Homo sapiens: one gene and its partners. The protein of the gene in region 2 purifies or fractionates together with the protein of the main gene of each other region. This does not show direct contact. Each region holds a gene or a part of one and is shown on either strand. Other genes may lie near its edges.

Region 1 (3,500 bases), on a different chromosome or scaffold from region 2:
GATCAATTACCTTAATTGGCCAAGAAAATGCTTCAGGTGTCTAGGGGTATCCTCTGCAACACTTGCAGAACAAAGGTCAATAAGATCCTTGCCTATGAATACCCCTCCCTTTTGCGCTGTTAAATTTGCAATGAGAAGCAAATTTACAGTACCATAACTAATAAAGCAGGGTACAGATATAAACTACTGCATCTTTTCTATAAAACTGTGATTAAGAATTCTACCTCTCCTGTATGGCTGTTACTGTACTGTACTCTCTGACTCCTTACCTAACAATGAATTTGTTACATAATCTTCTACATGTATGATTTGTGCCACTGATCTTAAACCTATGATTCAGTAACTTCTTACCATATAAAAACGATAATTGCTTTATTTGGAAAAGAATTTAGGAATACTAAGGACAATTATTTTTATAGACAAAGTAAAAAGACAGATATTTAAGAGGCATAACCAAAAAAGCAAAACTTGTAAACAGAGTAAAAATCTTTAATATTTCTAAAGACATACTGTTTATCTGCTTCATATGCTTTTTTTAATTTCACTATTCCATTTCTAAATTAAAGTTATGCTAAATTGAGTAAGCTGTTTATCACTTAACAGCTCATTTTGTCTTTTTCAATATACAAATTTTAAAAATACTACAATATTTAACTAAGGCCCAACCGATTTCCATAATGTAGCAGTTACCGTGTTCACCTCACACTAAGGCCTAGAGTTTGCTCTGATATGCATTTGGATGATTAATGTTATGCTGTTCTTTCATGTGAATGTCAAGACATGGAGGGTGTTTGTAATTTTATGGTAAAATTAATCCTTCTTACACATAATGGTGTCTTAAAATTGACAAAAAATGAGCACTTACAATTGTATGTCTCCTCAAATGAAAATTCTTTATCTGAAATTTTAAAAGACATTGATTCCACATGTAAGGATTTTTCATCTGAAGTACAATAATGCACAATCAGTGTTGCTCAAACTGCTTTATACTTATAAACAGCCATCTTAAATAAGCAACGTATTGTGAGTACTGATATGTATATAATAAAAATTATCAAAGAAAATTAACTGCCAGTCATTTGTAAATGCTGTCTACTCCTGAAAGCCTTCCTTCATCTCTATTTAGTTAATAATGTGCTCTCTCCTCCTGTTTTGAAACCCCATAGCTCTCTACACCTCTTATTGTACATCACTCTACTTTGCATTGGAGTTCTGTTTCTATATGTACTTATTCACCTGTTGCCTAAACATGCACTGTTCCTAAAAGGTACAGTTTTTGCTCAAAATATATGAAAGGAAAGATAATCAGTTCTTAAAGTTTGGTATGCTAAATAAGCACCCAGGGAACTTACCTGCTCCACCTCACCCCAGAAATTGATTATTCAGGTCTGGAATATGGCTCAGGATTCTTAATTTTCAACCAACACAATATAGAATCCTGTCAGTTATCCTTGGATCATTTGCTAAGTGATCTTGCAAAATCAAAACTCCTTTGAGACTATTTCATTTTCAGAAATATTTTAAAACTTGTTCAGAAACATCTTAAAACTTGTTAGCATATAGGAAAAGTACAATGCTTGGTGTAGGTAGGTTATTATTTGGTCATTTCCCTCAAACCATCCAGACAAGCCACTCTTCTACCACAAGCTGGTAGAAATCCTTAGGCACCTTTCTGCTTCTGCACTGCTATCACTTTCAGGTGTCTAAGGCTTCTGGAAGGCTGTTGTCATAACCTGGAGCCATACACCTAATGTACGTCTGGGGAAAGGACACCAATTAAAGAATCTAGAGCTAGGATGATGTTACATAAGACAGGGCACAATGGAGATGGACTCTGGATCCCTGCATCTGAAAGAAAAAGGCAAGAAAATGCAGGGCAGGGAAAATCCTGAAGGTCTTCACTGACCATGAATTAAAATCCTAATTGACAGTTTTACAAACAAAAACCCTCGTTTTAGTACTTGTGTTGTTTTTGTTTCTGTTTTAACAAGCTTAGATTTATTATTGTGCCTTTTATGGAAGATGAGGAAGAAATAGGAAAGCAGTAAAATGAACAATGAGAATCTGTTACCCAAACTGATATAAACTCCCTCAGAAAGAAAGATACTACTCCCTAATCCTGGAAGTGTTAAGTGGCAATAATGATCAAATGTTGTAAAGGGGATTGTTACTACAGCTAATATGAAATGGGAGGCTGGACTAAATCTAACCTTTCTACCCTTGATTTCAATTCTAAAAGGACACGTAATACCATTGCAGAAAGAAAAGACAGTTCCAAATGATAAATTTTAGAGTTGTTTTGCTAGGATGCAAGAGAAATTGGATAAGTGGACCACTCATACGTTGCTGGTGAGATATGAAATAGTAGAGCCACTGTGGAAAATATTCTTGGCAGTTTCTTATAAAACTAAACATACATTTAACATATAACTGGCATTTGTACTACTTGACAGTTATCCCTGAGAAGTTAAAACTTAACATTCACAAATGTTACATAGCACCTTCATTTATAATAGCCAAAACCCGGAAACAACCTGGATGTCCTTCAAAAAGAGTGAATGGTTTAGTATGTCCACACCATGGAATACTAAATAGTAATATGAAGGAACAAACTACTGATACATGTAACAAATTGCATGGACCTCAAGGGAATTATGCTTGGGTGGTTTGGGGGGACAATCCTAAAGTTTTACACACTGTATGATTCTGTTTTTGTAACATTCTTAAATAATAAAGCTATAGAGATGGGAAACAAGATTCGTGGTTGCCAGGTCTTGGGACTGAAGGGAAGGAGAATGTGGCTATAAAGGGAGCCTTGTGGTGGAAAAGTTCTGTAGTTTGATTGTGGTGATTACATAAATATACATGTGAAATGTTAGAAGTATTTATAGCTGAAACATATTAGTATGTTGGTATATACATATTTCTGACTAATTAATTTCGCCATGTTGCCCAGGCTGGTCTCGAACTCCTAAGCTCAAGTGATGTGCCCGCCTCAACTTCCCAAGTGCTGAGATTACAGGCGTGAGCCACCATGTCCGGCCTGTTTTTTCCTATGCATGCATAATTACGATCAAGTTTAATTTGTAATTAGGCACATTAAGAGATTAACAATAGCTAACAAAATGGAACAATTACAACAATATATTGTAATAAAAGTTATGCAAATGTGGTTTCTCTCTCTCAAAATATCTTGTACTCACCCTTGTGAGGCTGTGAGATGTCATACAATGCCTACATGAAGAGATGAAATGAGGTGACTGATGTAGGTATAAGTGATGTAGTTAGGCTACATTATCATCAAAATAACTTCGGGTAATCCTGGATCACTGAGCCAAGGTAATGTTGATGGTTAAGGAGCAGACAATGTTGATGGTTGGGGATCCTCAATAGGTGAAGGATTTCTATTTTGGGGTCTTTTTGCTGAAAAATTTTGGAAGAACACTGTAACCAGAAGTTGTTGACTCTTCAGCTCATCGAAGTGTTGCTGCAGAGACTGT
Region 2 (3,500 bases):
GGCCCTGGAGCTGCACTGTGTGGGCCCCAAGTGTGGGACTCACTGGGACCTGTGCCTTTGGGCACACTTTGAACCTGGAGACAGGGTGGCGGGTGGGCATGTGCCAAGGTCTCAGTGTTGCCGTGAGACTGAGAGGATCCTGCTGGCTGGGTGGGCCTGGGGGCTGCAGGAGGGAGGGCAGGCTGCTCCGAGTCTTCTTGGACTAGGGAGTGGGTGTAGGGACAGCTGGAAGGTGCAGAGGCTTGGGCAGATCCTCCAGTCAGTGAGAGGGTGATAAAGGTGCTCTAGGCACAGGGGCAGATCCCACCTCCCCATGCCGTTCCATGCAGCCTGCCCTGTAGCCCACATGCTGCTGGCCGCACTGACTGCTTGGAGCTCTGTGGGCACTGGTGGACTGGGGCTTCCTCCTCATGGGGGCCTGTGAGGGGTAGGGGTAGCGCAGTGGGGGTGCTGCCTCTGGGTGGGGCTGGTCAGGCCTGTGAAGGGCCTGAGGTGAGGCTGTGGCTGGGTTGAGGAAGGCCTTGGAAGCCTGTCAAGGGGCCCCTGAGAAAGCTTGTGTAGGATTGTCTGCAGTGAGCTTTGGGAAGCACCACCCTTTCCCGACTCCTGTTTTCATCTTGGAGATGGGCATGGATAAAGCCAGCATGGTGTCCTTGGTGGCTCAAAGGGGGCAGGGGTCATACTGCTGTGAAACAGCTGTGGTTGGTAGGTCGTGGTACAAGAAGGCCAACCCTGAGGCTTGGGATTGTTCTGCTGAAAACAAATGGGCTCGAACTTGGGGAAGAGGGGGCAGTGGAGAGGCCCCCAGACAGACAGCCCAGAGAGGCTGCTGGGCAGTTGGGCCTCGTGCCCCTGCTCCCGTCACGGTGCTGGGGCTCTGGCGGTGTCTACACCCAGCCTCCTGGTTGTGGGCAGGCAGTGAGTGGAGTAGGCTGGGGAGATGAGCCAAGGGCGGTGGTCAGTTGGGAAGACAGCTGCCAACTTGGGGAGGAGGGAGGCTCTGGTGGAGACCACAGCCTCACTGCATGGCCCAGGATGGACCTGGTGGGTGGATGCAGGGCGCTCAGGCTGGAGCTGGGAGAGGCAGGGGCTGGGTGGAGCTGCCTGCCCCTGTGTTCCAGTCTAGATGGGCAGAGGGAAAGGTGTGAGCATCCTCCCTGCCTGGGGGTCTTGGGGACTAGTGTAGACTTGTCCAGGAACTGTGTAGGTGTAGATGGGGCATGTGTTGCACCAACCTTGGTCTTGGGGAGCAAAGGTTGGGCTTGTTGGCATTGCCTCTCGGCCTCCCTGGCCCTTTGCCTCCTGGGCAGGGCCGTCTGACTGCCGACCCCAATCCTAGCCAGCTTGCCTTGGGTGCCCTGAGGGCGTCTGCCTCATGGGGCTCCTGCCATGGCTCTCAGGCCCACTCTCCCTGCCTAGGGGCTCTGAGGGGCAGATGTGCGTGTGCGGGAGGGAAAGGGAGGCTCTGGCCTCTCCTCTTACAAAGTTGAGGACTTGCTCAATGCTGTGTGTGGTGTCCCAGTGGCACGGCAGATGGGGGGTGAGGCGGGCCTGCAGCTAGTGTATATGAGCCAGCACTGCTTCCTAGGACGTGTGGGGGCCTGGCCAAGCTCTTGCTGTCCTTGTCCTAGCTATATGGCAGTCCCTCTATTGGGCTGGGTGCCCTCTTCCACCTGTGCAGTATGCTGAGGACCAGGCAGGGTCTGCCTGTGCCCCTCCAGCGCTGGTTGGGAGATCATGGGTGGGTGCCTGCCTCTGTTGGAAGCCTCTCAGCCAGCAGGCACCTAGCCCCGGGTGGGTTCCTTTCAGCCCCCTCAGCCTGGGCACACATCACAAACAAGTGGAGGCTACACCGGCACACGAGGGCTGGATCCCTGCCTCTGGGAAAGTGCATGTCAGGCTGGTGTGTGGCTGGCGCCTGGCCTGCCTTTGCCAGTTTGAGCCTGCACGTCCAAGTGTGGGGACCCCTTAGCTCCCGGGTGCTGGGATGGGCCAACTGAATAGGGTGGACTCAACCCTCACCACTTGGTCCCCACAGTGCTGGGCAGTGCCCCCTGGTCCATCCCCAGGTTGGACCCTGCTTGTGGCCCCAGTGCTAGTCCACAGCCAGAGTACATGGCAGTGGCCAGAGGCCTCTGGAGAGTGAGGCCTGGAGTGTCCAAGCTCCATGTAGGTCCAGTCCGGGCAGGGCCAGCTGGGCTTGCTTCTGACCCTGACATGCTCGTCCCGCTGCCTGGAGGTGCAGGCTCTGGGGGTCCGGAGAGCTTTGCCCACTGTAGGTCTTGAGGCCACAGTGTGGCTCTGCCTGGCTTCTCCTCCTGGTTGTAAATAAGGAGTGGGGCCTGAGGGCAGACGAGGACACTGGGGTGGGGGCCTGGATCCTGCGGGGGTGGCGCTGCCCTGCTGGTGCCCACTCAGGGGGTGCTTGTGTTGTGCTCTGTCAGGTGCCATCGCCTGCAGGATTCTTTATTCAGCTCTGACAGTGGCTTCAGCAACTACCGTGGCATCCTGAACTGGTGTGTGGTGATGCTGGTGAGTGGGACATGGTGTCGGGAGCGGGTCTAGGTCCAGGTGGGGCTCTGTCCCAGGCTGGCCTTTGCCTGAGAACAGGCTCTGTCACCCAGGGTGTCCAGGCTGGAGCCCCTGTGGGCTGGGGTGTGTGGAGCAGGCTGCACCTCCATGTGGCTGCCAGCACTGGACTGTTGGGGAGGGGAGTGGCAGTGGCTGCCCCTGCTGTGGTCACTTGGGTGCCCATGCACCACATACTTGCTGCTTCCCATTGGATCCCAGGAGAGCCCTGCAGATGTGGTGTGGGCGTGGGGAGGCCGAACAGTGCCTGGCTGGAGCCTGTGTGTTGTGAGCTGGGCCTGAGGGGTGCAGGGCCTCCAGGGAGGGCAGGGTGGAGGGGGTCTTGCCCTGGGCTGGTGGGAGAGTGGACTGCATGCTCTGTGGACACAAGGCCTCTCTGGCAGGGGATGTGAGAAGAGCTTCCTGTGCTACGCCACATGGCCTCTGTGGGTATGGAGCCCTGCAGGCCTGGCCACCACTCTGCAGTCCTCCTGGCCCCTTCCCTCAGCTGTGGGTCCTAGGAGCCCCCCAGGAAGGTGATTAGATGGAGCCCTGTGCCACGTCCAAGGCCTGCTACCTCTGGGCCTGGTTCCCACTGGCACTTCGTGGGGTGGGGCTGCCAGCCCCACCCCAGAAGTAGTTGGAGTCTAGGGCTCAAAGGGGCACCTGCAGGGCAGGTCGGGGACAAGGGCTATCTGGGCCCAGCCTCCCCAACTCAGGGCTGATGTGGCTCGAGGCCTTTGACCTTCACCCAGGCGTGTCTATCTCTGGCCTTGGGTGCTGCTCCTGTGGCTACCCACGTGGAAGGGGCTCCACGCACATCCACATCCCCCACCGCCCATGGTCCTAGAAGGTTCCCTGGGGGTGGCCAGCTGTGGAGGCCCACGAGTCCTGGTGGCTGAGAAGCTGGCCAGGCAGGAGGACAGTGGGCC
Region 3 (3,500 bases), on a different chromosome or scaffold from region 2:
AGAGTTTTGCTCTTGTTCCCCAGGCTGGAGTGCAGTGGCACGATCTCGGCTCACTGCAGCCTCCACCACCCGGGTTCAAGTAATTCTCCTGCCTCAGCCTCCCAAGTAACTGGGATTACAGGTGCCTGCCACCACGCCCAGCTGATTTTTTGTATTTTTAGTACAGGCAGGGTTTCACCACATTGGCCAGGCTGGTCTTGAACTCCTGACCTCAGGTGATCCACCCACCTTGGCCTCCAAATTGCTGGGATTATAGGCATGAGCCACCGAGCCTGGCCCACAAAATGTATTTCTTAAAAAATGTCTTGAAAATCAAAATTACTTCTTGAGCCATGAGCTGCAAAAATGATCTTCTGTTAGGCACGAAAACAACATTAATCTTTTTGTATATCACCATCAGAGCTCTTGGGTGACCAGGTGCATTGTCAATAAGCAGAAATACTTTGGAAGAATTTTTTTTTTGAGTAGTAAATCTCAACAGTGGGCTTAAAATATTCAGTAAACTATGTTGTAAACAGATGTGCTGTCATGCAGGCTTTATTATCTCATTGATAGAGCACAGGCAAAGTAAATTTATTGTAATTCTTTAGAGCCCTGGAATTGTCATAATGGTAAACCAGCATTGGCTTCAACTTGAAGTCACCAGCTGCATTATTCCCTAACAAGAGTCAGCCTAAACTTTGAAGCTTTGGAGCCAGGCATTGACTTCTCCTATCTAGCTCTGAAAGTCCTGGATGGCATCTTCTTCTAATAGAGGACTGTTTAGTCTACATTGAAAATGTGTTGTTTAGCGTAGCCACCTTCATCAATGATCTTAGCTAGATCTTCTGGATAACTTGCTGCAGCTTCTACATCAATCCTTGCTGCTTCCACCTTGCACTTTTATGTTGTGGAGATGGCTTCTTTTCTTAAACCTCATGAACCAACCTCTGCTAGCTTCCAACTTTTCTTCTGCAGCTTCCTTACCTCTCCACATCTTCACAGAATTGAAGAGATTTAGGGCCTTGGTCTGGATTAGGCTTTGGCTGAAAGAGAATTCTGGCTGGTTGGATCTTCTATCCAGACCACTAAAACTTTCTCCACATCAGCAATAAGTTTGTTTCACTTTCTTATCATTCATGTGTTCAGTAGCACTTTTAATTTCCTTCAAGAACTTTTCCTTTGCATTCACAACTTGGCTGTTTGGTGCAAGAGGCCTAGCTTTCAGCCTATCTTGGCTTTTGGCATGCCTTCCTCAGTAAGCTTAATTATTTTCAGCTTTTGATTGAAAGTAAAGATATGCAACTCTTCCTTTCACTTGAATTCTTAGAGGCTGTTGTAGGTTATTAATTTTCCTAATCTCAATATTGTTGTGTCTCGGGGAACAGAAAAGCCTGAGGAGAAGGAGAGATAGTGGGAATGTCTAGTTGTTGGAGCAGTCAGAACACACATATTTATTGATGAAATTCACCATCTTATATAGGGGCAGCTTGTGGTGACCTAAAACAATTACAATATTGATATCAAAGAACAATGGTCACAGATCACCGAAACAGACATACCAATAACGAAAACATTTGAAATACTGTGAGAATTACCAAAATGTGACACAGAGACAGGAAATGAACGCATGCTGTTGGAAAAATGGTGGTGATAGCTTTATTCATTTTCTTTGAAAAATGCAATATCTGTGGCATGCAATAAAGCAAAGTGCAATAAAAAGAGACATGGCTGCAATTCAAATTGGAATCAAATGTTTTATAATCTGTCCAGTCTTTATTCTCACTGTTATTTTTTGCTCTTTTCTTTTTGTTTTGCAATGTAGCAGGGACCTTTTATCATTCATTTTTGTGTCCACATTGTCAGGCATTCAATTTGGTACGTAATAGGTATTAAAATATTGAATAAAACCAAACCTCTGGCATGACATACTGCTTCATAAATCTACATCTAGGATGATAATTAATACCATAGAATCTAAAATTTTGTTATATTTCAGATGGAGGTAACTTGCCTTTTTCTAAATGCAATGCCTAATATTTCTGCAGATTTAAATTCACAAACTTGGCATTTTACTATACTGTAGTAACTTTCAGATTTTACAGTACGCTTTTTCCCCTAGTCAATAATATATAGGTTAAATCAGAATAACCATGGGCAAAAATAATAGCTCCAGCAGTGAATGTCAGAGAAGTGCCACTTCATATCTCTTATTTTTGTCTTGACATTATATTAAATGTCTTCCTCAAACAGAAAATTCCCCTAATCACATGATAATTTTATTTTCAAAGGCAACAGACAATTTTCCAAGGAAAGTTTGCTAAATATGTATTTTGAACGTCTGTATAAATGGAAACTGAATCTCTCACATCCACGAGCTCACTAATGCCCTAGACCATATTAAAACTAAGTTTGAAATACTAAGAGTTTTTCCTTCTTTTGTTTTTCTCAACACTTCAGTAACCTGTGTCAGGGAGGGGAGAATGATGCAGCAAATGCGTAGCAAAGATAAAACTGGTTTGTCACAATGAGTTCCAGCTTCATGCTGTCTAAATGAAACCAAGTTTCCCCTATAAAGAACAGGTTGCTCCATTTAAATTATCTTTGTTCTTATAGGTCAAAATATCATGTCTTTAACTTGTTTGGGTGAAAACCACATGCCCTAGCTTCTGGCACAGATAACAAATTAGAAAATATCTAAACCACATATATTTAAATGTAATATTTAAAGTACATTGTAAGTGAGATAGAGTCTGCAGTTTATGAGGAAACAGCTCATTTACATACCAAAGAATCTCTCACAATTGTAAATTCTGTGTGTCTTTGACAGCTTCACTTCAGGCATGGAGATGTGGAGATGTTTGATGTTTAGAGAGCATTAACTTGTATAGAGCAGAGCAAGACTTTATTCATTGCACATTTGCCAAGGATACTCTTTTTGGTTTCCTTTGAAGATAAAAATTACTATCTGTTTGGACCAGGAAGTTCATCTGTCTCTGCATAACCCTCACTAGGGGTAATATATATTTACATGACAATCAAATAAGTATTCTCTGTAAAAAACCAAGCCTGTCATTCGTATTATCCAGGGCAGGTGGGAACTGGAGACAGCAAAAACTTAACCTTGACAAATCTTCCTAGAACTTTAAGTAAAATGGAGCCTGAACTCCGTAAAGTCGACATTATTGTATGATGTTAATGCATAGTTGCCAGATGAAGATTTTTCCCCTGCTTTGTTCTTTTTAAATATGTTACATTAGATAATATGTATTTTTTAAAAATACATTAAACATGTCCCCAACGGGTTTCTTTTTGTTTGAAAGAAGAAAAGAATAATGTTTTAATACTATCTTTAAGCTCCAACTAAGCATAACTATAAAACCAAAAGCTTTACTGGAAAATCTTAACCATTTTCTTTTCAAATTGATATATTCAACACAAAGGTCAATGTAGATGATTTTAAAATTGCTTAGTTGCACTGTTTTATGTTTCTCTCATATTAAATATTGTTAACTGATTAA
Region 4 (3,500 bases), on a different chromosome or scaffold from region 2:
AACAAACAAAAGAACAATTCCAGGGCACCCCTGTTTCCAGCTCTGTCCACTTTACATTCTCAAAATAAAAGTAGTGTCCCTTTGACAGACACTTTTTCATCACCAGCTCATGGATAAAGCGTCTCTCCTTCCAGACGTCCCCCACGGCCACACCAAGCGGAACCCAAAGAAGGAAGGGTCTGCTTTTCCTCCTGAAGCCATAGGTGGCTGGAGGTGCCCAGCTGGCCGTGGGGAGCGGTGCTGACTCGTGCATAACTGTAGGTTTCACACCTGGGCACGGACCGGCGGGTCAGAAAACTTCTCCCTGAAACTGAAACGAAAACTCCGGGCCATTTTAAAGCCAGCTTGAGGAAGCTGTTTGTAGAGCAGTTGGTAAGAAGTCGCAGGTCTCCTCTGGAGGAAGAAAGAGCAGGGAGGAGCCGTGGGTTGACGCGGGTGTTAAAAGCTGGAAAGACTTTGGAGGCTGCGGGTTGGTCTCCTGGCACTCGGAGTGTGTGTTTTCTGCTGATAGACACTTTGTGGGTGGATGCCCCTGAGATGAGAGGACTCATACCCAGACTAATACTGCCAGGGTGTCAAGAATTCCCATTAAGACCACCCTGGGGGCTGACGGTGGCTTTGTGGTTTCCGTCCACGGGGGACACTGAGTCTTGAGGTTTGTATGACAATGCATTCAACCTGCCCAGGGGAGCCACAGCCCCACTGTGGATCATCTAAGAGTCTCAGCCTCTGACGTGGGCCGAGGTCTCCAATGACCTCCCTGATCCAAGGAAGGACGGGAGGGAGGGAGGGCGGGAAGGAAGGAAGGAAGGAAGGAAGGAGGGAAGAAGAGAAGGAAGGAGAGAGGAGGAAGGAAGAAGAAAGGGGAGAAGACAGGAAAGAAGAAAAGAATGACACAGGGTGAAGAAAGGAGGCAGAGAGGGAGGGAAGGAAGGAGGAGAGGGAAGGAGGAACTAAGGGAGGGAGGGAGGGAGGAGACAGCAGGCCCTGCTAAAGCATCTCCCCCGCCTTGGTCCCCGGGGAGCGGCGCTCAGGAGCCCTCCCGGCAGCCGCCTCTTTACCTGCGCCCCTGACCCGTACACCCTTCCCTCCTTCCCTTGCAGAGCCCGGGCGAGGACCCCTCCAGGATGCAGGTCCCGAACAGCACCGGCCCGGACAACGCGACGCTGCAGATGCTGCGGAACCCGGCGATCGCGGTGGCCCTGCCCGTGGTGTACTCGCTGGTGGCGGCGGTCAGCATCCCGGGCAACCTCTTCTCTCTGTGGGTGCTGTGCCGGCGCATGGGGCCCAGATCCCCGTCGGTCATCTTCATGATCAACCTGAGCGTCACGGACCTGATGCTGGCCAGCGTGTTGCCTTTCCAAATCTACTACCATTGCAACCGCCACCACTGGGTATTCGGGGTGCTGCTTTGCAACGTGGTGACCGTGGCCTTTTACGCAAACATGTATTCCAGCATCCTCACCATGACCTGTATCAGCGTGGAGCGCTTCCTGGGGGTCCTGTACCCGCTCAGCTCCAAGCGCTGGCGCCGCCGTCGTTACGCGGTGGCCGCGTGTGCAGGGACCTGGCTGCTGCTCCTGACCGCCCTGTCCCCGCTGGCGCGCACCGATCTCACCTACCCGGTGCACGCCCTGGGCATCATCACCTGCTTCGACGTCCTCAAGTGGACGATGCTCCCCAGCGTGGCCATGTGGGCCGTGTTCCTCTTCACCATCTTCATCCTGCTGTTCCTCATCCCGTTCGTGATCACCGTGGCTTGTTACACGGCCACCATCCTCAAGCTGTTGCGCACGGAGGAGGCGCACGGCCGGGAGCAGCGGAGGCGCGCGGTGGGCCTGGCCGCGGTGGTCTTGCTGGCCTTTGTCACCTGCTTCGCCCCCAACAACTTCGTGCTCCTGGCGCACATCGTGAGCCGCCTGTTCTACGGCAAGAGCTACTACCACGTGTACAAGCTCACGCTGTGTCTCAGCTGCCTCAACAACTGTCTGGACCCGTTTGTTTATTACTTTGCGTCCCGGGAATTCCAGCTGCGCCTGCGGGAATATTTGGGCTGCCGCCGGGTGCCCAGAGACACCCTGGACACGCGCCGCGAGAGCCTCTTCTCCGCCAGGACCACGTCCGTGCGCTCCGAGGCCGGTGCGCACCCTGAAGGGATGGAGGGAGCCACCAGGCCCGGCCTCCAGAGGCAGGAGAGTGTGTTCTGAGTCCCGGGGGCGCAGCTTGGAGAGCCGGGGGCGCAGCTTGGAGATCCAGGGGCGCATGGAGAGGCCACGGTGCCAGAGGTTCAGGGAGAACAGCTGCGTTGCTCCCAGGCACTGCAGAGGCCCGGTGGGGAAGGGTCTCCAGGCTTTATTCCTCCCAGGCACTGCAGAGGCACCGGTGAGGAAGGGTCTCCAGGCTTCACTCAGGGTAGAGAAACAAGCAAAGCCCAGCAGCGCACAGGGTGCTTGTTATCCTGCAGAGGGTGCCTCTGCCTCTCTGTGTCAGGGGACAGCTTGTGTCACCACGCCCGGCTAATTTTTGTATTTTTTTTAGTAGAGCTGGGCTGTCACCCCCGAGCTCCTTAGACACTCCTCACACCTGTCCATACCCGAGGGTGGATATTCAACCAGCCCCACCGCCTACCCGACTCGGTTTCTGGATATCCTCCGTGGGCGAACTGCGAGCCCCATTCCCAGCTCTTCTCCCTGCTGACATCGTCCCTTAGTTGTGGTTCTGGCCTTCTCCATTCTCCTCCAGGGGTTCTGGTCTCCGTAGCCCGGTGCACGCCGAAATTTCTGTTTATTTCACTCAGGGGCACTGTGGTTGCTGTGGTTGGAATTCTTCTTTCAGAGGAGCGCCTGGGGCTCCTGCAAGTCAGCTACTCTCCGTGCCCACTTCCCCCCACACACACACCCCACCCTGTTGCTGACCAAGGTGATTTTTGGCACATTTGTTCTGGCCTGGCTTGGTGGGACCCCACCCCTATTCTGCTTCTGTGAGTCCCTGATAGAGAAGGAGGTCCCATCAGGCCCCTGGAACACACTCAGGCTTCCCTGACTCAGGACAAGGACCACGGGAGGCCCAGGTGCGGAAAGGAGGCTCCGTGAGATGGGGTCCAGCCCATCCCAACACAAGGGTGCAGCTTGATTCGGGAGTTCCCCACCTCCTGCCCATTCTCCGCGTCCTTTTACCCCATGGAGAGCCTCAGCCATGGCAAGTCCATCTGGAGTCCAGGAAGCAGGCAACTGGCCTGACCCATGAGACCGTTTGGAGACCAAGCAGCAGATGCAGGTGTGGACCCCAGGAACCTACAGGGGTGTCAGCCGCTGAGCCCCCTCCCTGCTGTGTGGGTGGTGAGCAGGCTGGGTCTTTGTCTGTCTTCTTCTACACGGCATGTGCCTGCACCAGCCCCAACACCTGAGCTGGTTTAGCGCAAAGAAGAGCTCTGACTCTCCAGGGGTGCTGGGACATCACGTGGAATTGGATCCCAGGCTCTCTTGGGCGAGAAAGACCAT

The links. The genes of interacting proteins can lie anywhere in the genome.
Region 1: the proteins of DGAT1 (region 2) and TMED5 purify together in Homo sapiens (co-immunoprecipitation; one large-scale study listed by IntAct). This does not show direct contact.
Region 3: the proteins of DGAT1 (region 2) and TRDN purify together in Homo sapiens (co-immunoprecipitation; one large-scale study listed by IntAct). This does not show direct contact.
Region 4: the proteins of DGAT1 (region 2) and P2RY8 purify together in Homo sapiens (co-immunoprecipitation; one large-scale study listed by IntAct). This does not show direct contact.

What each region holds. Positions count from the first base shown.
Region 1 is NC_000001.11:93,149,414-93,152,913, reverse strand, and holds the end of TMED5 (transmembrane emp24 domain-containing protein 5 isoform 1 precursor), read left to right. Parts: 3' UTR 1-3,172; downstream 3,173-3,500. UniProt on the Homo sapiens protein: Potential role in vesicular protein trafficking, mainly in the early secretory pathway. Required for the maintenance of the Golgi apparatus; involved in protein exchange between Golgi stacks during assembly.
Region 2 is NC_000008.11:144,320,353-144,323,852, reverse strand, and holds part of DGAT1 (diacylglycerol O-acyltransferase 1), read left to right. Parts: intron 1-2,444; coding exon 2,445-2,532; intron 2,533-3,500. UniProt on the Homo sapiens protein: Catalyzes the terminal and only committed step in triacylglycerol synthesis by using diacylglycerol and fatty acyl CoA as substrates. Highly expressed in epithelial cells of the small intestine and its activity is essential for the absorption of dietary fats.
Region 3 is NC_000006.12:123,626,951-123,630,450, forward strand, and holds part of TRDN (triadin), read right to left. Parts: intron 1-3,500. UniProt on the Homo sapiens protein: Contributes to the regulation of lumenal Ca2+ release via the sarcoplasmic reticulum calcium release channels RYR1 and RYR2, a key step in triggering skeletal and heart muscle contraction.
Region 4 is NC_000023.11:1,464,186-1,467,685, reverse strand, and holds part of P2RY8 (S-geranylgeranyl-glutathione receptor P2RY8), read left to right. Parts: intron 1-467; exon of another isoform or gene 468-655; intron 656-1,103; 5' UTR 1,104-1,127; coding exon 1,128-2,207; 3' UTR 2,208-3,500. UniProt on the Homo sapiens protein: G protein-coupled receptor for S-geranylgeranyl-glutathione (GGG), an endogenous metabolite present in lymphoid tissues.